Regions from separate parts of the Homo sapiens genome. Here region 2 is linked to region 1. Evidence: fine-mapped expression QTL. A gene starts in region 1. The other region holds a variant in brackets. All regions are shown on one strand. Distances are from middle to middle.

Region 1 (11,316 bases):
ACCCCAGCCTCCCAAAGTGCTGGGATTACAGGTGGAAGACACCACATGTGGTCTGATGTCTCTTCAAATATTTAAACCTCGATTTCCCAAATCACTCAAAATGAAATCCAAATTTGTTCATGTGGCCTGGTACCTGATTATGTCTCTGGCCTCATCTCTATGACTTTCCCTCTTGCTGACTTCACTGCTCCAGCCACTTGCCCTCTTTGCATGCCCCAAACATGTTACCACCTCAGGGCCTTTGCATCTGCTGCTTCTTTGCATATCCTAGGCCTTCTGCCCAGAGATTCCCATAAGCTTCTCACTTCTTTCAAATCTGCTGAGATATCACCTTATCAGAAAGGCCTTCACAGTAAGTAAGTTTAAGTAAAATAGTGCCCTCTCCAGCGTCTCCCTATCTTCTTACATCCCTTCATCTTCACCTAGTATTTATCCCCACCTGATGTGTGATATAGGCACTGTTTGTTAATTGTTATTCTCCTTGTGCTAGAATAGAAGATCCACGGAGCAAGGACTTGATCTGCTTTGTTCTGAATACCTAGATTAGTGCCTGACACATAACATAATAGGAGCTTGCTAATCAATACATATAGAATTAATGGATTAAGCCGCCAGTCAAGTTGGGTCCATTTTTACTGTGTATGAACAGTCTTAACAGTTTGAATGTAGGTGATTGCCCTTAGCCCATCCTTAGCTAAATAATTTCAGTTCCATTCAGTAAGGTTTTGTTGAATCTGTGCTAAGGCAGACCAGCAGCAGTGTCCAGTGTGGCTCTCACAGTGCTCACGGCACATACTTCTCCTCTCACTCACCACTTCTTAGCTAGGGGATGGCATGACTTTTGGTTAGAGTGGCACCAAAGACCCCATGACCTGGAACACCACAGAACTTTTTCCCTTTACTCTTCTCTGGTTTGCAAAATTGCACCATGGCTTCTCTCATAACAGATTCCCTAGTAGAGAATTTCAGAGTTTCTGTTGCTCCTTTTACATGTTCATTCCTCACCAGGTGCAAGGTCCAGCATGATCCCCAGGACCCAGGAATCAGCCTGTTCTTTGCTGGCTGCTCCCCGTGCAGCCCCATGGGCTTATCTCCTAGAGGCTGACTCCACTGGCACCTACTTTATAAGCTGTGTCAATTGCGTGGCCACTAGCCTGAGAAGACTGGTCTGGAAGCCAGCTGCTGGGACCCTACCTAGTCATGGCGCTCCTGTCCCTTTGAAGCTCCTGGATATACTGGACACCACTCCTCTGACATTTGTCCTGCTGGATCAAAGGAAGAGGTTTCAGCAGAGGTCCCACTGGGCTTTGTCTATGAGCTTTTTATTAAAGTACTCCAATCTCCAGGATGTAGCTTTCTCTTTTCCCTGCTTACTGGTTTTAAACATTAACTCTGTCCTTAGGATGCAGTTGGAAGAAAAGTCAGATGTATTGTTCCCAAGAAATTGCTGAATTAACTCTGCAGCCTTTCCAAATACCTAGATTGCCTTAGGAGGCAAATGTACCCCCCAACCTAGAATGGAGGAAACTGGCTCTGCAAGTGCCCTGACCGACATATAACCAACCTGCCCAAACACCTCATATCACCAACTTTCTAGCGGTATAGAAATCTCCTCTTGATTTCCACACCAGTAGTGGCCACAGAGCCACACTCCAGAGGCAAATTCAGATACCTTGTAGCCATTTGGTTATGACGGCCATGCCTCCTACTTCTGAAAAGTTTACATTAGTAGACTTTAGGCCATAAGGTCTTCATATTCTTTTCTAGGTAGTTCTGGACCTTGGTGATGGAGACATAGAAGGTACCGCCAGTTAGTGGTGTTCTCTTTTTTTTTTTTTTTTTTTTTTTTAGATGGAGTCTTACTCTGTCTCCCAGGCTGGAGTGCAGTGGCACAATCTTGGCTCACTGCAGCCTCCACCTCCTGGGTTCAAGCAATACTCCTGCCTCAGCCTCCCAGTAGCTGGGATTACAGGTGCCCGCCACCATGCCTGGCTAATTTTTTTGAATTTTTAGTAGCAACAGGGTTTCACTATGTTGGCCAGGCTGGTCTCAAACTCTTGACCTCAAGTGATCCACCCGCCTCGGCCTCCCAAAGTGCTGGGATTACAGGCATGAGCCACTGCACCTGGCCTGGTGTTCTCTTAAAGGGAGTTAGATCCACCTTCACCAAAATGAGTCAGTTCCTTAATAATTTATCTAGCTGCTCCAAAAGCCCCTGCACCTTGTTTTCACATATCCATAGCAGATAAAGTTTAGAATATTTCTTTATTTTTACTTTTTTTGTGGAGACAGGGTCTTGCTATGTTGTCCAGGCTAGTCTCAAACTCCTGGTCCTCCCTCCTCAGCTTCTCAAAGCACTGGGATTATAGGCATGAGCCATCATGCCTGGCCAAGTTTAGGATAATTCTTAACCTGACTTGATCTATCCATAAACCTAACCCTAGGAAGATAGCAGTACCACCCCTCTGCCTGGCACCCCAAGTTTCCTCTATTCTGAATTGCTTCCCCTTCCCCTGGGACACATCATGCTTTCTTACAACTTGACGCTTCTGAACATCCTATTTCTTCCACTTGGAATGTCCTAACCTGTCTCGCCTAACTTGCAAATTCCCACGCGTCTTTAAAACCTCCACTGAAGCACAGCCCCTGCCAGACACCACTTAAGTGGAGCTCGTCCCTCTCTCCTGTGTGCTATCTCTGTGACTCCTATATGCCTTCTTTACCACTCTTTTCACTTCATTAAATGTCTGGTCTCCCGTACGGAACTGTGAACTTCCTAGTAGCAGTGACCAGAGCCAGGGATTATTTAACTGTGTAGCCCCATGTCTTAGTTTGTTAGGGCTACTATAACAAAATACTATAACCTGGGTAACTGTAACAAACAGAAATTTGTTTCTCACAGTTCTGGAGGCTGGAAAGTTCAAGAGCGTGGTGCTGGCAGATTTAGTGTCTGGTGAGGGCCTGTTTCCTTGTTCATAAATGGTGCCTGCTCTCTGTGTCCCCACATGGTGGAAAAGGCTACTAACTCTCTGCAGTCACTTGATCTAACCACCTCCTAATACCATCACATTGTGGGTTAGGATTTCAAAATATAAATTTGGGGCGTACACAAACATTCAGACCATAACATTCCACCAACGGTGCCAAAAATATGTTAGGTTCTTATAGCTTATTGCTTAATTGAATAAAAGAATGAGTTCCTGGACAGGTGTGGTGACTCACGCCTGTAATCCTAGCACTTTGGGAGGCCGAGGCAGGTGGATCACTTGAGGTCAGGAGTTGGAGACCAGCCTGGCCAACGTGGTGAAACCCCGTCTCTACAAAAAATACAAAAATTAGCTAGGCGTGTTGGTGGGCACCTGTAGTCCCAGCTACTCGGGAGGCTAAGGCAGGAGAACCACTTGAACCATGAGGCAGAGGTTGCAGTGAGCTGAGATTGTGCCACTGCACTCCAGCCTGGGCAACACAGTGAAATTCTGTCTCAAAAAAACAAAAACAAAACAAAACAAGAATGAGTTCCTAATAGATTGCCAGACTGAAGTGTAGTCTACTGCATTTGATGATTCATCATGTCTCCTAGGCCTAGCACATACTAAATTCTTTGTAAATGTTTCTGGGATAAGGGGATTAAATGAGTAAATGTGTTTTGAAACCAGCAATTTTTATGTTCATTTCCAATTTTCCTTGTGATCAGTACTTTGCCCAGTGAAAAATCAACTTTCTTCCTCAAGGCTCTATTCTGAGTTCTCCTGTTTCTCTCTACTCCTGCTAGATCCTGCCTACCTCCTTGTTATCTGAATCTGGATTTTAAACATATAGAACACACAGAGTTTTTACAATGGGTGAAAACCAAAGAGCAGTCTCTTGCTAACTGAATGAAGCTTTTAAGGAGGTTCCTATTTAAAATGAAATCTGCTCTGGTGGAGTTATGAAGATTAAACATGGTAATATTTGTGAAAGTGTTTTATAAAGAGATCAAAATATGTGTAATTATATGAGATAATTGATAATGATGCATTATGATAATAAAATTTGAGGGAAATAACTCCCCAAATTTACCCACTTCACTCTCCCCAAAGCCCCAGGAGTGTGTTTGTACAGCTTTTCTATTTAACATTCACTCAGGGAGATGTCAATATTTAATAGAATATTTAACAGAATGAGGAAAATCTAAGCAATGGTTAATAGTCACTTAGAGGTCAGTAAAAATTAATATAATTTTCAAAGATGTACCATTTATAATCAAAATAGCTATGGGGTAGGTCAACTGCAATATTTCCTTATGTTAAGCCACAAAAAATATACAAAATTGAAATTATATTTGTCATGATATAAAACAATATACTACAAAAAGTTCCCTATTGTCTTTTTCTTTCTTAAAGTTAATGATTGTGATCCTTTGTCAAAAAAAAAAAAAAAAAAGAATCAGTGCTCCTTTTCCTCATGTTAAATGAGTAAATTAATATTACTAATTTGGAAATCGTAAACTATGGCTTCCAGTAACTAGCATTTATTTTATTCATGAGAAAACAGTGGCATATTTAGCTTCTACTGAAGTATTGTACGAATAACTTAAGCAAAAAGGGGTGTCATATTATATTAAAATTGATTTTTTTGTTTCATTTTTTTATTTGAACATCAGTTGTATGGAGTACTCATTTTAAAAAGGAAAATGGTATGAAAATAATTGTTTTGAAAGGAGAAAAAAGAGGTGTGAGCTTTCTTGAAAGTGTAAGGAAAGTAGTGTGATGGAAGTCATAGTGAAATCAGACTGGGAGTCAGAAAACCGGTTCTAGTGTCATCTCTGCTACTTAGTAGCCCTTTTCTTTTAGTCGATTCTAAACACTAAATATGCTTCCGCATGTGGATTTAAATGTGATGGTCGCCAGTGACAAGCATAGGGGGATATTTCTTGCTAGGGTCAGTTCAGGTCATGATTCCTCTAAAGGCATATTATTGGATTATTTTACTGTGGGTCTACTTTATTAGGAGAAGGCCCCGAAAGGGTGTTTTGTTTTGTTTTGTTTTGTTTTGTTTTGTTTGGAGGGACGTAATACTAGGGAAAATTCTTTTTGTCACAGGTTCCCTCTCCCAGTGACCCTAACTTGGAGGCCTCTTTAGGAGTCCCAGAGACTCTGAGAGGGTCACACTGTACCTTGAAACAGTTTTTGGCGTTTGTATAAAGCTGCGGATGCGCTCTGTAGGAGGTTGCTATGACAATTTGCAAACAGTAGAGTGGATGAAACTCCGCAGGAGGTGGCTCCCTTCCGACTGGAGTCTGCACTAGTTCGGGCCTGCACAGTAGGTCCAGCCAGGAGCCAGAGATACTCGGGCGGGGCAGAGCATAATGGACCCCTGGCCCCAAGAGAACTTCAGAAACTAGGCACCTCTCGAGAAGGAAGTGCATGGCATAACTCTGCCCCGTCATCCGGGATTTGTCGGGCTTTCCCACCCCACCTCCTCTCACAGTTGAAGTGGCAAAACCTGTGACCTTTGAACAGAGGCGCACTGTGTGCCACGCACGACGAGGCGCGGATGTGAGACGGGAAAGCAATTTTTTTTTGGTCTTCAAGGAAAAGAGAGGTTGTATATGGCGAATAAAAAAGGCAGGGAAATTCTCCACGTGTCTTGGAAGGGAAGGGGGAAAGAGATGTGTCGGGTGGGGTGAGAGGAATTCGAGGTGTCGCTCCCTCACCGCAGAGCTGAAAGGAAGGTGTGTCTCTCCCAGTGGCCGCGCAGGGGAAAGGCTCGGAGTTGTAAGGAAATAGGAGATGTCTCTGATGTTTATTTTTGCCTAGCAACCCACAGCCAACTGCTTCCCCAGCTGCCGTCCACACGCGCCTCTCTGCCTCCCCTTGTCCTAGCGACTGGCGAGCGGTCACTTGGTGTCAGTAAACCGGGGAGGGTGTGTGGTGGAGGTGGGAGGGCAGCCCCCTCTTTCGCCCCTGCTCAGGGTCAACGAGCTCAGCGGCCGCCCCTCCCGGGACTTGCCTCTCCGAGGTGACCCTCGCACAACTAAGTTATCTACATGATGAATTGGGGAGAGGGGAGTGGCTAAGTCGCTGGGACCAAGAATGGGGGGACGGGGAAGCAGTACTGTCTGTGAGCAGCCATTCAGTTCGAAGAGCTGAAAATGCATTTATGTTTAGGGGTGCGCATGGCAGGGGAGGGGTCTCTGCGGCGCTTTCGGCCGGAGGGCAGCAGCGGTAGGTTGAGCTGTAGGGCAGAGAAGGGGCGCCGCGGGGCCGGGGAGGGGAAAAGGTCGCCGGAGTGGAGCCGAGGGAAGCAGTGCAGATGGCCGGAGGGGGCGGAGGAGGGCGAGCGGAGGCCGCCGAGTTTTCCGGGGAGCGGAGGGGCGGCTGCGCGCAAACCGGGGGACTGAGAGGAGCCGGGCGGGAGGTTGGGTGGGGGTGGGGTGTGCGTGGCCGCGGCCGGGGGAGCCGGGGGCGGGGCCTGCGGCGGCGGAGGAGGGCGGCGGAGGGCGGCGGGGGCGGGGCCGCGCGCCGGCGCCTGTGTGTGAGTGCGCGGGGGCGCGCGCGCGCGGGCCCGGGAGAGGCTCCCGAGCCAGGCGGTCTTCGGTCCTCGCAGCGCTTCCAGCTCCCCGCGCCCCTATGTGAGGGAGACGGGGAGGCCCGCGGCGCGCAGGGGAGGGCGAGGCATGTGCACGGGCCGGAGGGTGCTGCAGCCGCCCGAGGAAGAGGAGGACGGCGGCGAGGAGGAGAGCGGGGGGCTCGCGGCGGCGGGCCCCGGCCGAGGGGATGCAGTGGACTGTGTGTGTCTGGCTGTAGCAGACGCGAGGCGGCGACGAGGCGCCGGGGACCCGCGCGAGGGGCGGCCGGGAGGCGGCGGCGGCGGCCGCCAGAAGTAGCAGCAGGACCGGCGGCGGCGACGGCAGCCCTGAAATGCATTTTCCTCTCCAGCGGCCATGTTAACCAGGAAACCTTCGGCCGCCGCTCCCGCCGCCTACCCGACCGGTAAGGAGGCCGTGCCGCCGCGCCGCATCCCCGGACCCCCGCCGGCCCTGGGCAGCCCCTGTGGCGCGGGCGGCCGCTGCCTGCGGGACCTCGAACAAAGTCGGCGGCGCGGCGCGGGGGAGCCCCCGGGCGGACGACGCGCCCCGGGCTCCATGCAGGGTTGTGCGCGGCCCCGAAGGCCCCTCCGCGGGGAGCCCTCGGCCCGAAGAGGCTTCTGCCTGCCGGGGGCCCGGGCGGGGACCGTCCAGGCCTGCCGCCCCGCCCTGCGCTGCCCGGGGCTTGGCGTGGCCGTGGCTCCCTGCTCAGCTGTCCAAACCCACCTCCCGGCTGCTGGCCGTCTGCAACGTGGGCCGCCTAGCCCCGGCGCGGCCCGGCTCCCCCGCCGGGTCGCGAACTCGCGCGCCAGGGCCCCACTTAACTTTGCAGCTGCCCGCGCCCCGCCCGTGGGTGTGCGCTGGGGAGCCGTGACCCGAACGCCCGTTTTTACTGCCCCGGTCTCTTCCTCCGTCTTTCTTTGGAAGAGGGTTGTCGCTGCCCAGCGGGGTTGGAGGGGGGGTCTGGGTGACTTTCTCCCCCCTGACCCTCTTTTGTCTCCTCCCGCACGTGGCTTCCAGGCCGAGGTGGGGACAGCGCCGTTCGTCAGCTTCAGGCTTCCCCGGGGCTCGGTGCAGGGGCCACCCGGAGCGGAGTGGGGACTGGCCCGCCCTCCCCCATCGCCCTGCCGCCTCTCCGGGCCAGCAACGCTGCCGCCGCAGCCCACACGGTGAGACCCAGCCCGCGGGCGGCCCGGGCGGTGGGGGCGGGAGGGGCCCCAGGCCGAAGCACCCGGACTTGGAGGGGTCTGACGCCGGGAGAAGAGGGGTCGAGATACAAGCAGCCCCACGCCTCGGGCCGATGGTCTCTCGTCGACGCCGCCCTGGTTAAGTTGGGCGAGCCCAAAGCTGCAGCCACAAAGGAAGATTCGTGGCGTGGGCCCCTTACTTCCCCTCCAGAGCTCGCCCACCCATGACCTCCTCTTCCTAGGAACTTCCTCCTTGCTGCTTTCCTTCTTTCCTCATTTTTCGTCCTTGCATCCCAGAGTTCCCTTCCCTGACCCGGTAAACATCTCTGTCCTTCCCCCACCTCCCCGTGGGTAGTGGGTATTTATAGAAACAGATACGTGTTAGGGGACAGCCAGACCGGCCTGCCCGGAAAATCGATCCCCCAAAGAGCCTCCCAGGCCTGGCTCCAGCCAGCAGGGAGCATCGCCAATTGTCCCCCGCGTGTGTAAGCATGTTTTATGAGTGCTACAGGTTTGAGCACAGCAGAAATTGTAATCAACATTAACAAAAATAAGGGCCGCCGCAGCAGTCAAAACAAGCCACCCCTGTAGGATTCTGCAGTTGGACATTATTCAAAAGGAAAGGGCAAGCGTTGCTTTGGAGGTGGGAAAGAAAAAGCACCTAACAGGTGCTGTGGTCTCTGGGAGGGGAGAGGCCAGCGTGGGACTGGTTGCTGGTGGCTGCGGAGACTGGCAAGCTGGATTCGACTAAAGCATGTACCTTTTCTCAGCTCCCAGGGATCACCCTTGGATGGTGATGGCCAGCCTGGAGGAGGTCTGCACTTGGAGGAGGTGATGGTTTGGAGGTCTTTTTTTCCCAATTGGATTTTCCACAGGAACAGCCTAAGATGGTTCTGTGTGAGGGAGGCTTGCTAGGGATTGGTTTTATTTGCTAAGTGAAAGTTGAGTTCTTGAAGAAAAGGCCATCTCCGGTCTACAGGGGAGTAGCTCTGGGGACATATGTTATGGGGAAACTTGTTTGTCAGAGAACTGTGAGGGGATGTCTAGACTGTAGTTGCACCTGTTAGACTTGGAGAGATGTGTGCAAGTTTCGTAGGAAAATGTTTTGTTGCTGTTACTATCTTCCCCCTCCCTCTGTCTGTCTCTCTATCCTGACACATCTGGTCCCAGGGGCTGGGAATTCATTGCACAGAGGTTAACTAACCTGTGTTGGACTGTGGATGGTATAGTAGGATGGATGATTCTGTATATTACTGTTAAGTGTTCTTGTCACAGTGATATTTAAGGGACTGCCATTGATTTTAGGGGTTTGGATTTTTTTGTTTGGGATCATCTGACAATTTGGAAAATATAATACCCAGTTTTTTGCTATGTGTTGATGTAATCACATGACATGGTGTGAGCTGGAAAAAGAACTATTTGGTTTGCATGTGGATTCCAATTTTGTAAGGATGGGCTTTGCTTGATCAGAGCCTCTTTGCAATTGAAATACATGTAATGAAAGTAGATGAAACGACAAGTCTCCACTGGAGGGAGAGCCTGTGGTGCACCAGAAAAGGAAGGATGCGAATGTGCTTCTCAGTACTCCTCATAATGGAGGCCTGTATTTTGCTGTGGCATATGCCAGATTTACTTGTTTTTAACGTGTGTGTAAACTTCGGTATGCTGTTAATTATTAGATGCTTGACTTTGAAGGTGTGAATTTGGGTTTCGATGGTGGTTTAGTTTTGATTTTATTTCTATAACATAGCAGATTTCATAGTACAGGAAAGGTTACAAGGACCACAGAGTTTATCTGGTTCTATTCTTTCAATTTATAGATGAGGAAACAGACTCAGACAAGGTAACTGGTTTCATCAAGATTCCCCAGCCAGTTCATATCAAGGCCAGAGTGAAAGCCTACATCCTCCTGCATCTAGTTTTAATATACTGATGGAGACTGCTAATTCTAGGAAATTGTACTAGCCTCATTATAAATGCAAGAACCTTTGTAGATCCATATTCCCATATGTCTGTCAGATTTTTATAAATTTTTAGTTATTATTTCCAGAGTAATTACACCTAGGAAGAACTTCTAGAATGAATGGGGGGCGGGAGGGCATTAAGGAGATAAAAATGATCTTGTCATAGGAGCTTGCCCACATTTTCTCTTACAGGTGATATAGTAGGCAGGTTAAATATATGATTATAAAGATTATAAACTTTGGAATTTATCTAGACCATTGCCCTTTTGTTTTATATCTCCATGTATAAGTTGTTTTACACTTTAGTTATTTCTGTTTGTGTGAGAGAGAGAAGTGTGCCCAATCACTGTCTTACTTCCTATTATTTTTCTATTAATGTTAATTGGTAGTTATTAATAGAAGTATTTTTAAATTCAAAAATATTAAAATATGTATAACTTTTGTAACTGTTTTACTATGTAAAACACTCCAGTTATCAGTTTTACCTTTATAAAATAATTCAAATTGAAATACACATTTTAAAAAATGGCAGTATTTTGAAGAAGAAAAAGTAGACATTTTTCTTTCTGACAGGGCCACACAGACTGTCAGAATGTTTGAGGAGGAGCTAAAATTCCAGTCTTTTTGGACTCAATTCTATTACCATAATACTATACAGCATTTCTAAGATGACTTCAGAAAAGTTTTTAAACGCCCAAGACTATTATCACAGTGGAATATCTGCTGTTTGCCATTTTCTTATTGGAAGAAATGAAAACTACCAAACTGGTTAGACTATTGTTTTTATATAATATTTAATACCAAAGTACTTGATGATCAAAGAAGCCTTTGCAGGTCTCTCAATTCGAACCCATAAATTGTAGCTATTTTAACAATTGTATTATGTTTTTATTTTTTGTTTTGTTTTGTTTTGTTTTTTTGAGACGGAGTCTCACTCTGTTGCCCAGGCTGGAGTGCAGTGGCTCCATCTCGGCTCACTGCAACCTCCGCCTCCGGGGTTCAAGCGATTCTCTTGCCTTAGCCACCCAAGTAGCTGGGATTACAGGCACCCGCCACCATGCCTGGCTAATTTTTGTATTTTTAGTAGAGATGGGGTTTCACCATGTTGGCCAGGTTGGTTATGAACTCCTGACCTCAAATGATCCACCTGCCTCAGCCTCCCAAAGTGCTGGGATTACAGGATTGAGCCCCTGTGCCCGGCCTCAGTATGTATTTTTAAATGTGACACACACTGTGCTATACATTGGCATATCGGAATAAGCCATGATCTCAGACTTCAAGAGGCTGAGCTGGAGGGAGAGGTTTTTAGTATCCTTAAGTTTATGATGTAGTCTTGACATACGTATTCTGGAAATGTTCTGGCATTTCTAGTCCCTCAGCACCCCCACCCTGCTCTCTGCCCCATTTTTTATAAGTCAGTTAATTGTGCTTTTGAGCTTGATTGTGATTTTAGAGTCCTGCAATGTTTGAGATTCAAAGTCTTCTTTTGCTAGAGCTTCTCAAATGAATCTCTAACATCTGGAAAGCTTTTAAGATTGCATGTGTTGCTTTTAGGTGTTTGGTTGATGTGTTTGTTGCAAGTGTTTTATACATGGTT
Region 2 (11,316 bases), 130 kb before region 1:
GGCAGATCACGAGGTCAAGAGATTGAGACGACCCTGGCGAACATGGTGAAACCCCATCTCTACTAAAAATACAAAAATTAGCTGGGCGTAGTGGTGTGTGCTTGTAGTCCCAGCTACTCGGGAGGCTGAGGCAGGAGAATCGCTTGAACTCGGGAGGTGGAGGTAGCAATGAGCCGAGATCGCGTCACTGTACTCAAGCCTGGCAACAGAGTGAGACTCCATCTAAAAAAAAAAGAAAAGGAAAAAATAAGCCAAAATAAATGCTTATTGTGCTATGCTACTGGGGCTTTGTGGTTGTTTGTTCCACAGCATAATGATGTTAAAAGATGACTGAAATATAGGGCAAGTCCCATAACTTATTCTGTTATTCAAAACCATCATAGTTGATCATGGCCTTATGTGTTTCCACATATGCATTTTAGATTTGGTTTGTCAAATTCCATGACCTGGTTTAACCCTTTTATACATAACTCAAATCCTAGGGTGCATTTTTTGCAGCATAGAACCCCTTCTAAGATTCCACCTTACATTATCCTCAAAGGTGAAGTTAACTAGACCATTTGTGGCTCCATTTTTGATAAGGTATTAATTTATTTGTATTTGCTTCGTCATATTATAATATCATTATCATGAGATGAAGGTTCTGTTGCCAAGGCAACCAAAAGTGATACATGAGCTTTCAGCTTTATCTAAAACCTTAACTATCTTTGGCCGTATTCCATGTACTTTCTTGGCTCTCTTGCCTTCATTCCTGAGGTTGAAAGAATGGACTATTCTACAATTCTGTCAGCGTCTTATGTTTTATATCTGTTCCCACCTCTACACACATCAGCATTCTCATCAATCTCTAAATTTACTAACTTAACTCACTTATTTTCTACTATTTATCCTTGAGAGCGCCTCTCCTTCTGTACAATGCTGAACAACATTCATTCAACATACATATAATGATTACCTAACATGGGCCTGGGCTCAAAAGTCCCAGGTCACAAAAGTAAATGAGACAGATGGAGCCTCCACCCTTCCATAAATAAGAAAAATAAGTTGGTGTTAGCTAGAGTTGGGGAAGGGCGCATCAGACAAAGAAAACAATATGTGATAAAACCCTGAGGTTTCTAGTAGGACAAGGAGTTTTAAAGGAGGCAATGTGGCTGAATATGAGTGTGTGAGAGTGAGAGGCACTTGAGATGCATCTGGAGAAGCAGTCAAGGGGAAAATCACAGTGGGCCTCGCAAGGTATCTGCACCACCTGTTGAGGAACGGAGTTGTAAAGGTCTGAAATGGGTAAGTCATCCAATAAAAGCTCATTTCTCTCCCTAGCCATGTGCTCCAATTAGTAGTAGAGGAAACCCACCATCATGGGTGTCTGTGGGTGCTGCACTCACACCAGGGAAGTCAGAAGTCTATCTTGGTAGCATGTCAGCCAACAAGCCTTACCTCCTTAGCCAAGGAGGGGCTGGGGGTCTAAGCTGAGCCAAACAGAGTTCCTCTGGGGAAATCTTGATGGTGTAACAGCCAGAGGAAAACATGACTTGGTCAGATTCATTTCACTGACAGCACAGTTACTGAACACAGTGTGTTCATTGGTCCTTGGAGCATACCTCCCAGGCCACTTCAGATCTAGATCCATGTGACATCTTGCTGAGATGGGGAAGAGACTCTTTCTCCCCCACCATCATGGGTTTCTTCAGGTGCTGCACTCACACCAGGGAAATCAGAAGTCAAGCGCAGGGGCATGGTTCTGTAGCATCACTCAATCTGGGGGATTATTCCACACACAGTAGGTCTCTCTTAATCATCTTCTTTAGGACTGGAAAGCCAGTGAGCCCCATGCATGTCCAGCAGATAACTGGTATCAGAGCCTCTGACATGGATAAGAGTAGATATATCTTTCCATAGAGATTCATTAATCTGGGGTCAGGCATGGGAAAACCAACCATGGTTTTACTGTCCCTAGCTTCTTTATTAGCTTCCTGTCACTTTTTGGTATCTTCATCCTCATTTTTTTTCTATCAGGTTCCCCAATTTCTCTTTAACTCCGGATTTTCTAATAACAAGCATACTCTCAGGAAATAGGGTATGTTGTATAGAGCATTTAAATATCGGTCATAGGGTGTAGCTAATCTGTGGCTTTTTGACCCCAGTTTTTAGAGCTGGGGTTTCTGATTCCCCCACTTACCTAATATGAAGAATTCTGAGTGAGCGAGTGTGTTTATTGGGCATTTATTGTTTTTGCCTGCCCGGCATCATTTCTTTCTCTCCTGGTAATGCCAGGACCCTGATTTCTCCTTTAAGGGCTGGCTCCTCTCCATAGCTTATTCTATCTTGGTGGCACATCAGCTAACAAGCCTTACCTCCTTAGCCATGGAGGGGCTGGGGGTCTAAGCTGAGCCAGAGTTCCTCTGGGGAAATCTTGATGGTCTAACAGCCAGAGGAAAACATATCTTGGTCAGATTCATTTCACTGACAGCACACAAAGAAATTGTGCCCACTAGGAACTAGTTCCTGCTATCTAGTGCCCAAAGCAGCTCCATTTCCTCTCCCACTCAATTTTCTTCCATTAAATCCCCAGTTTGCTTAAATTAGAAGCTAAGAAACAACTTAGCTTCTGTTGTTTGCAATGGGAGAAAAGTTCAACTCACAAAGTGCATGTGTGCATTTTTCTGGGGTATGGAATTCTTCAAGTTCTCAAAGGCATCCATAATCCAGAAGGGTTAAGAATCACTAGGTTAGATGATCATATCTGCCTTTGAGGAAGGATTGAATACATGCACCCTTGCAAATTAACAGGTGCTTGAGTCACTGAACTAAAAATTGTGGAATTTCTGGCATCCTCTGGCAAAGCAGAGTTATTTTTGGCAGAATGGATGTTTCTCAGGAACTTATAACATAATTGTAGAAATCCCCTAAATGAAAAGGCTAGTCCTGCCTTTACCCACAGTTGAGGTTTGCTTTCTGATCAAAGATACTCCTTTGCCACCACCTCAACCCATACTTGTTCTCACAGCATTTTTCTCTCCAGTCAAAAGAGCTCTTTCAGTGCACAGAAAAGTTAACAGCAACTATGGGAGTTAGGGTGGAATAAGTTAAGTCTGTCTCTAGGTCAGCATTTTCTCAAGTACCAAGTAGGATGCCCGAAAGGGTACGGGAACGTTGGGGCTCCAGAAACTCGGTCCAGCTTAGAAAATCAAAAGCACTTTTTCTATCTTTCCCTAGCTTTTGAAGTTATTAGAAGCCAAGTCTACTATTAAGTAAAATTGGATGGTTTTTTTGTTACAATTCTAAAATTAAAGGCTTTCAAAAAGAAAAAAGGAAAGAACAGGCAAGTAGAAACACTTTTGTGTCCAAACCACTAAAACGGGAAGCAGTTCCAATGTATACCCAACTTTTTGTTCCTATGTCATCCCAATGTGCCTTTTCCCACCGGAAAAATTATTTCAGCCTTATGCGAGGAACATCATTTTAAATTTTGGGTAGCTGTTTTGCATATTGCTATTTAATCATGGGCACACACCACACACACACACACACACACATACACACACACACACGAGAGAGAGACACTCGCTCACTCTCCTAAGTTCTCCTTCTGTATTTGCTTCCTTATCACTTGAAGTGAGGTGAGTTCAAAAACTTAAGTTTCTTTGTCTTAGTCTGCATCCAGAATCAAACTGTTGGCAACAATGGTGACATCATAAACTGATCTTGGTTCCTTGAAGAAAATGCTGCTGGGATGTCATAGAAGGCAGAGTGGGCAAATCTGATTGGTAACAGTGAGAGTTGAGTTTGAATAAGGACTTAGAAGCAGAGTAAAGCAAATGCTCATTTTAAGCTGAACTCACACTGGTCTCTCATGGGAAGGGGAAGCAGCAGCATTGTGTTCAACCACCATCATTTTCCAGTAATAGGACCCAAGGCCCACTGATTTTCAGAAAGAGAGTGTGATGGCAGCAGCCATTTAGTTGCCCTTGCCATCTCTTCTAACTCAGAAGGTTAATCATTAATTGTTTTAAAAAGCCATCTCACATTTCATCAGAATATTTTCCTTAATATAAATTTGTCATTTAATGCTAAGTATCAAGCAGTGCTGGACAGTCTACTGCACACTATTAGATGATAGCAATAAAAGAATACACGTTCTGGTTGGATGAGTAAAACCTTACCCAATAAGTAATTTTCATTCATAGCTTCTATTAATAGTAACAAAGCCAGTTATTACTTGCTGGGCAACTGGTACATTATACAGACTATGAAGGTGCTGCACATATGTGAGCTTAAATCCTTCCAGCAACCTAGGATGCCAGCTAGGCATGGTAGAGAACAGCTTGGCTTCCATGAAAAACCATGAGTTGTTTAGCACTCACCTTTCCCGTTTATCTCATTCTGATTCTATGGGGGACTTGGTGCCTTTCATTACCTTTGATGGTTATAGATAACCTACATGAAAGTGATTCTTGTCTGTAAGATACATAAATATATAGTATCCAAATGGAACTAAATTTAATTCTCCACCCCTTAACCCTCCCAACAGAAAAAGCCAGTTTCTGCCTATTTGTAAACTCATTTCAACATTCCTTTATATAAATTTGTGTTTCTTTTTACTTCTTCTTTGAACCAAATTTAACATTTGCCTGTTAAACAATATCTTTAGCATGTGCTCATTTTATATCTGTAGGAGGATCAGGATTTTGCATTTATATGTATACTTTAACAATATTATTAGCTCCATTTTACAGATGAAGATATTGAGGCTCAGAGTAAGATGACTTGCTGGGAACCATTAATGATGAAATGACCTGGCCAGGGTGAAACCCCTGTATGTTCTGACCCTACGGCCTATGTGCTTTCTTCTAATTGTGCATCTGCTCTATGCCAGGCGTGTGCTAAGTGTGTGGGAATATTATTTTAAGTCATTTAGATATTAGTGGCCTTTACTATCCTGAAATTATAGAGTTATAAAATCTCCATGATAATTTTATAGCTATGTGTGAGATAAAAATCAAGGCAAGAAAAAAAAAAAGGCAGAAGAAAAATCCCTAACAGTTGGAGAAAGGAGGATAATGGAGTGGTAAGAATACAATGGAATTAATCTTGGAAAGCTTTTTGGAAGTTTCTTAATTTGCATTGTCTAAATGGAAAAGGCATAAAAAAGAAGCCTGAAGAGTAAAGCCAACAACTTGTAAACTTGTGTCCTGAAGCTTCAAGTACTGTCGCTTAAGAAATAAGCAAGGAAATAGGATACCACTGCTTGTACATCTGTTATCTAACAGTGTAAAAAAAAAGTGACAAATGAGATGAGAACCTAGTCTAATCTCTTAATCATTCCCATATATAACTATTTTGCATGAAGTTTCCATGGGCCCTAAATATGATAGCGTCATTCTTAAAACTGCTTAAAACTGTCATTAGATTCACTACGTTTGTAGGCTAAACTCTAAACTCACTTTTTATCATACATTTTTTATCTGGTTCCTGCTATTTCTCATCTCTTCTGGTATCCAGCAGCATTTCTCTCTCTTTTTCTTTATTTCTTCCTCCTCCTCTCCTCTCTCTCCCCCTCTCTCTTCACACACACACACACACACACACACACACACACCACACCTACCTCACAATCTAGGCTCCTGACTCTTCAGAGAGTCCTGCAATTCTCCAGCCCACCAAGCTGTGTTGCAACTCAGCCTTTGTTGAACCTTCCTTTTGCCTTTAACACCGCCCTTTCCACCCCACCCTGCCTCGGCAAGTACTTATTCATTACGTGACGCTCAACTTAAGAATCACCTTCTTTATAAAAAATTCCTGATCCTGATTTGTGCAAAGCAGCCACCCCTATACATACATTCTGCCAGCATGTGTTTATGAATCCCTTGGTTGTGCTTCTTTGTTTACACACTTGCTTCCAGGGACCGTGTCTGCTTGATCTCCCTTCTCTCCCAGAAATTCCCACGATGCCTGCTGCATGGTTTGTGCTCAGTAATTGAACGCATTGTGCATCGGGGAGATGGCACATTGGCCTGTGTGATGGGCAAGGGGGTGGAGTACCAGAAGGGACCATAAAGTTCAGTGCATTCAAACCCTTCCCTTCATGGTGCAGAGAGAGCTGGAAGTATTCACAGAACATAGGAGGAAACTGAGGCATTGAAAGAGCTGAAAGTATCAATAGGACTCTTGCCCCTGAGTTTAGTACCCATTCCAACATGCCACACTACTTTCTGGGATGGTTGAGTGTGGGTGAGAGAGAGAGAGTTTATTTTCTGTTTTGCTTTTGTGGTGCTTTCATAATTTTGGTAAAGATATTTTTAAGTCAGAGCACAGGGCGGTTCAGTTTTC[A/G]TTACCCAACTTGGCATTTTCCTCTTGTCCACAGAGCAGCTCTGAGCCCTTATCATGGCCCTGTAACCACATCCTCTGCTGGGTCCAATGCGAAATCAACACTGTCAGTGAAAAACAAACACTAACAGGTGTGCAGCACATTGAGCGAGGGAGGGCGTTTATTCTACAGCAAGGGTCAGTAAACTGGAGGGAAGGAAAAAGCCGGTCCAGGTATGAGCAAACCGCCTGGGTCCCACAGCCCCCTCGGAGACAGGGAGAGGGTGCCAAAGGCTTCAAACAGCTGCTGTGGGCCTGCAACAACCAGGCCCACCTGTGAGCAAGCTGCAGAAATGGATTTTGGTAATTACATTCAAAGCTTCTGTCAGAGTCACATGTTAAAGCTTCTGGGATCTCTTAGATGAGATCCAGGCAAGTGTTGCTGAAATGCACACACTGATGATGATGCAGCAGACACTCCCCGGGTGTCCTCAGCTGCAGCACCTGCTAGGGACTGGGGAGCAGCAACGGTCACATTTAGGACAGGACATCTTTCATAGGATCTTGTTTCGGGGGAAACAAGACCTTTACAAAGTCTGCCCTGAGAGGAAATCTCCTGTTCTATATTCCTGAAGCTGCCACCCTGGTGTTCTTCCTGAACCAGGTGACTATACGATGCTGAGTAAAAATAATTACCAATAAGAGAGAGGAAGCAGTCTGTATGGAGCTCTGTGCTAGGCTATTCTTTATTTTTTTTATTTTTGAGACAGAGTCTCACTCTGTCACCCAGACTGGAGTGCAGTGGTGCGATCTCGGCTCACTACAACCTCCACCTCCAGAGTTCAAGCAATTCCCCTGCCTCAGCCTCCCGAGTAACTGGGATTACAGGCACATTCCACCATACCTGGCTAATTTTTGTATTTTTAGTAGAGGTGGGGTTTCACCATGTTGGTCAGGCTGGTCTCGAACTCCTGACCTCAAGCAATCTGCCTGCCTTGGCCTCCCAAAGTGCTGGGATTACAGGCGTGAGCCACTGTGCCCCACCGCGCTAGGCTCTTCTAAGTATGTATTGTCTTATCTAATCCTCACATCAACACTATGGGTAGATATTGTTATCAGCATCCTCTCTACTTTACAAATAAGGAAACAGAGGGAACAGGGTGAATTAAACTGCCCAAGGTTATGCAGCTAGCAGGTTTGTGGTAGAGCCAGGATTTAATTCCAGGTCGTTGGTTTCAGAGTGTGCGTTCTCAGGCCTCCAGGATGCTGCGATTGACCTGACAGTTCGCAGCCTTGGCTGTACATTAGAATCACCTGGGGAACTTTTAAAAATGCCAGTGCCAGGGCTCACCTCCAAAGATACAGATTTATATGGTTTAGGGTAGGCTGAGTACTAAAATGTGTGTGCCTGTGTGTGTATGTAATGTATAATATGTATGTGTGTGTGTACGTGTGTAATATGTCTTGTGCAACCAGATTAGCCTTAGTCACTTAAAGAGTGCAGCTGGCACAGGTAGGTGTTTCCCATCACGTCATCCAAGGAAAGTATTGAGGGGTGGCAGACAACATCGGAAGCCCAGCCACAGAAGGTCTGGCTCGGGCGTGGTGCCATGACTAAGGCTTGGGGAAGAATGCCAGAAAAAAGGAAGAGGCGGCCAAAAAAGGTGCTGTGCTAGAGAGACAAGAAAACCAACAGAGCCCCATTGCACCGTTTGCCAAGGGTGGCCGTGGAGAACTGCCAAGGGGGAAGACCACAGAGGTGACCACCTTCACGGCCGCACAGAGCGTTCCTGGAACTCCCCAGTACCAACAAGAATCAGGGTTCCCGGAAAAGTGTTTTAAGACAGAAACTTGCCTTATAAATCACATCTGTTGGAGGTACCAGGGGAGTATTTTGGGATCTGAAGTGTTCAGGGTAGGAGCCTTTTGAAACCAGGGACTGAGGCCGCGGAGATGTGAGTGCTAGGATGTCAGGGCTTCCCCAGCCCAGCAGTTGCGAGTCTGGAATCGGCTTGGTTCAGTTGCAAGTTACACTCTCACTCTCCTTACACCCTAGACATGTGTTTTAGAATTATAAAATTTGTGTCTGTTAAAGCCAAGTTAAAATAGCAAAAAAAAACCACTCAGTTTTATCACCCATGTGTAACAACTATTATTCAGTATATTCCTTTATATTGTTGTCATTTTTTCTGGACATAATTTTTCAACAGTGTATATAATGTATATGCAAATATTATAGCCTGCTTTTACACTCAAAATAATATGACCATTTATTCCTTAAGGAATATCCTTTCCTTCATAATAATTACACTAACAGTGACCAGTTATTGCTGGGTTTCTGAAAATTGAATAATCTATGAACTCATTCTATAGAAAAAAATTTGCATGAACATCTACCGGTAAAAATTGTTTTTATCTTTACTTAAATATACAGGACCTAAAACAAGTACTTTATAACATAAAGATGTACATCTATATGTTATATATCTACATCTGTCTCTCCTTTTTTATAAGGCCTAAAAACAAATGCTTTATTACTTGCAAACCACAACATCAAAACAATTTTATATGTTAAAAATAAGACAACAGGGAGGCTGAGGTGGGTGGATCACGAGGTCAAGAGATCAAGATGATCCTGGCCAACATGGTGAAACCCCGTCTCTGCTAAAAATACAAAAATTAGCTGGGCGTGGTGGTGTGTGCCTGTAGACCCAGCTACTCGGGAGGCTGAGGCAGGAGAATCGCTTGAACCCAGGAGGTGAAGATTGCAGTGAGCCGAGATCGTGCCACTGCAGTCCAGCCTGGCAACAGCGAGACTCCTTCTCAAAAAAAAAAAAAAAAAAAAAAAGCAACAAAACCAATAAAATTCACAATTATATATTGATGAAATGTGACAAGCATTGTTTAGTGAATTTAACTGTTGCTCATTGCTATGGTGCAGATATGTTGCCTTCTTGGTGCCAGTAGGACCAGTGCTGTGAGCTCACTCAGTTCCTATACCACTTTTCTCTGTTCTAAACTCTTAGGACATTTATGTGCACAACCTGAAGGCATCCTGGGCTTTCACTTGGCATAAACACTTCCTTTATATCAACTCTGATTTCCTTCTATTTTCTCTAGCTCATGACACTTCAAGTAGTACCATCTGGTACCAATTGTAATCATAAACACAGATTATGAATTGAGTTCCCAAACTGAATCCAAATAGATCTTTCAGCTGATCCGTAATATGGCTATATTAATTTTTAAATTGATTGAAAGGTAAACAGAAATGTAATAATGTTCCACAGAGAACTTCCAAACCTAGAAGACTTATCATCACACTCCTGTCATTTTGAGAAACACTGATTTATTGAATGCCTCACTTATACCAGGTAACTGAGCTGGAGCCACTTACCCCCTGTAACAACATATCATTCCCATTTCTCAGATGAGGTAGCCGAGGTTTGTAGAGGTTATGAAATGTGATGAAGAACATGGAGCTGTCAGGTGAAGGAGCTGTGATTCGAATCCTGGTCTCTGCCATTCCAAAGCCAGTGTCCTTGGACCATGATCTCACGTGGCCTTCCACAACTTCTTACAAAGTGTTCTTCTCCCATGTGGGGTTTAGCATGTTTATACTGACTGAGACCAGAGTTAGAGATAAATGATTGGTTTTTTCCCTTTAGAGAAAGCCTAGCGTTTGTCATTTATGGTGTATTTATTTGCTTATGAAAATAACCTAATGAGGATGGACCCTTTAAGATATTTCAGTAGATCTGGCAGTAGCCCAGGTGATTGGCAGTAGCTTGCCAGCTATTAAATCATTCTGAATATATGAAGAATTGTCATTTTCTTCTCAAAAGGGCTTTGTCACGTGGTGTAATCCCTGCACACACATTGGCATAAGCAGGAGCTGTCTCTGTGCAAATCCATTCTTGGAACCAATCATATTAACTTGATATTTCATGTTTTGGCCCAATACCATAAACTGGCACAAATAACACTAACCTTGCCACGCACTAAAGATTGGAATAATAAATCAGCCAGCCTGTAATTATATTGGGAGAGCCAGCTTTATTCTTTAGTGAGCAGATTGATGTATCTGTTTAGACTGGTTGCCTTTAGGGCTCTCTGGGAACCTGGTCTGACTTTCTAGTGCCCAGGCAGGCACTGCCCCAGATCACTGCATATATAGGTGAGTTCCCGCTGTGCAGGTCTGTCAGGACCAAACTGGTTTCCAAACCTGGCTGGCTTCTCCGCAAGGTGCATAGCTGTCAAAAGTGAAACAAAGCGAAGGGCTTGGGATGCCAGAAAGACAAAAGCTCATCCATCAGGCTCAGCAGGAAAGGCAGGGGAGGCAGCGGCGGGAAGCCTTCCTTAGCTGTGTGATCCTAGATGGCTGTTAACTTAGCATTTGAGGACTGTCTCAGATAGACACAATTGGACCAGGTAATTCCTTTGTCTGAATTCATGTCATTTCTTCAGCAATGGCAGAAAGGACTTGAAGCAGCAGGTCTAAGTGGGCAAAATAAGACAAAATAAGTGGGCAAAATACTGACTGGGACCAGGGCTAGAGATAAATGATTTTTTTTTTCCTTTAGAGAAAACCTAGCATTTGTCATTTATGATGTATTTATTTGCTTATGAAAATAACCTGATGAGGATGGACCCTTTAAGATAGTACAGTGGATTTGGCAGTAGACCAGGTGGTTGACACCTGGTATGACAAAATAATGTAGCAAAAACATTTCATATAGGGGGAAATATTCCCTGTCTGTTGTCTTGCTTGCTTCCAAGACAGTATGAAGAAGATTATATGAAATATTAATGAGGAGACGGGTAAGTCGGTGAAAGAAGGGGCCTACTCCTGAATCCTGCCATTAAAATTTGCAGATTAATTCCATTGGAATTTAAAACGTATCGTTGCATTGTGGCATCAAGTGTGAAGAGGTCCCGCCTGGATATATGTTCCTTGCCTGATTCCTGAATGGCTTAATTTGGCTTTGCCTGTCTGACTCATATGCCTTC

What was found. PIP is the estimated chance that this variant, and not a neighbour inherited with it, causes the effect.
Region 2: its variant is fine-mapped to the expression of DYRK2 in whole blood (INTERVAL, PIP above 0.99).

The regions. Positions count from the first base shown.
Region 1 is chr12:67,642,209-67,653,524 of GRCh38, forward strand. It overlaps DYRK2 (dual specificity tyrosine phosphorylation regulated kinase 2), which reads left to right and starts at 6,537. Exons shown (of 3, transcript NM_006482.3): 1 at 6,537-6,974; 2 at 7,589-7,737. The coding sequence starts at 6,926. RefSeq lists silencers at 6,200-6,309, 6,410-6,709, 6,720-7,379, 7,540-7,929 and an enhancer at 9,010-9,059.
Region 2 is chr12:67,509,456-67,520,771 of GRCh38, forward strand. It overlaps LINC02408 (long intergenic non-protein coding RNA 2408), which reads left to right and starts at 10,627. Exons shown (of 3, transcript NR_103861.1): 1 at 10,627-10,737. RefSeq lists an enhancer at 10,288-10,953. The variant A/G (reference allele first, on the strand shown) is at 6,331.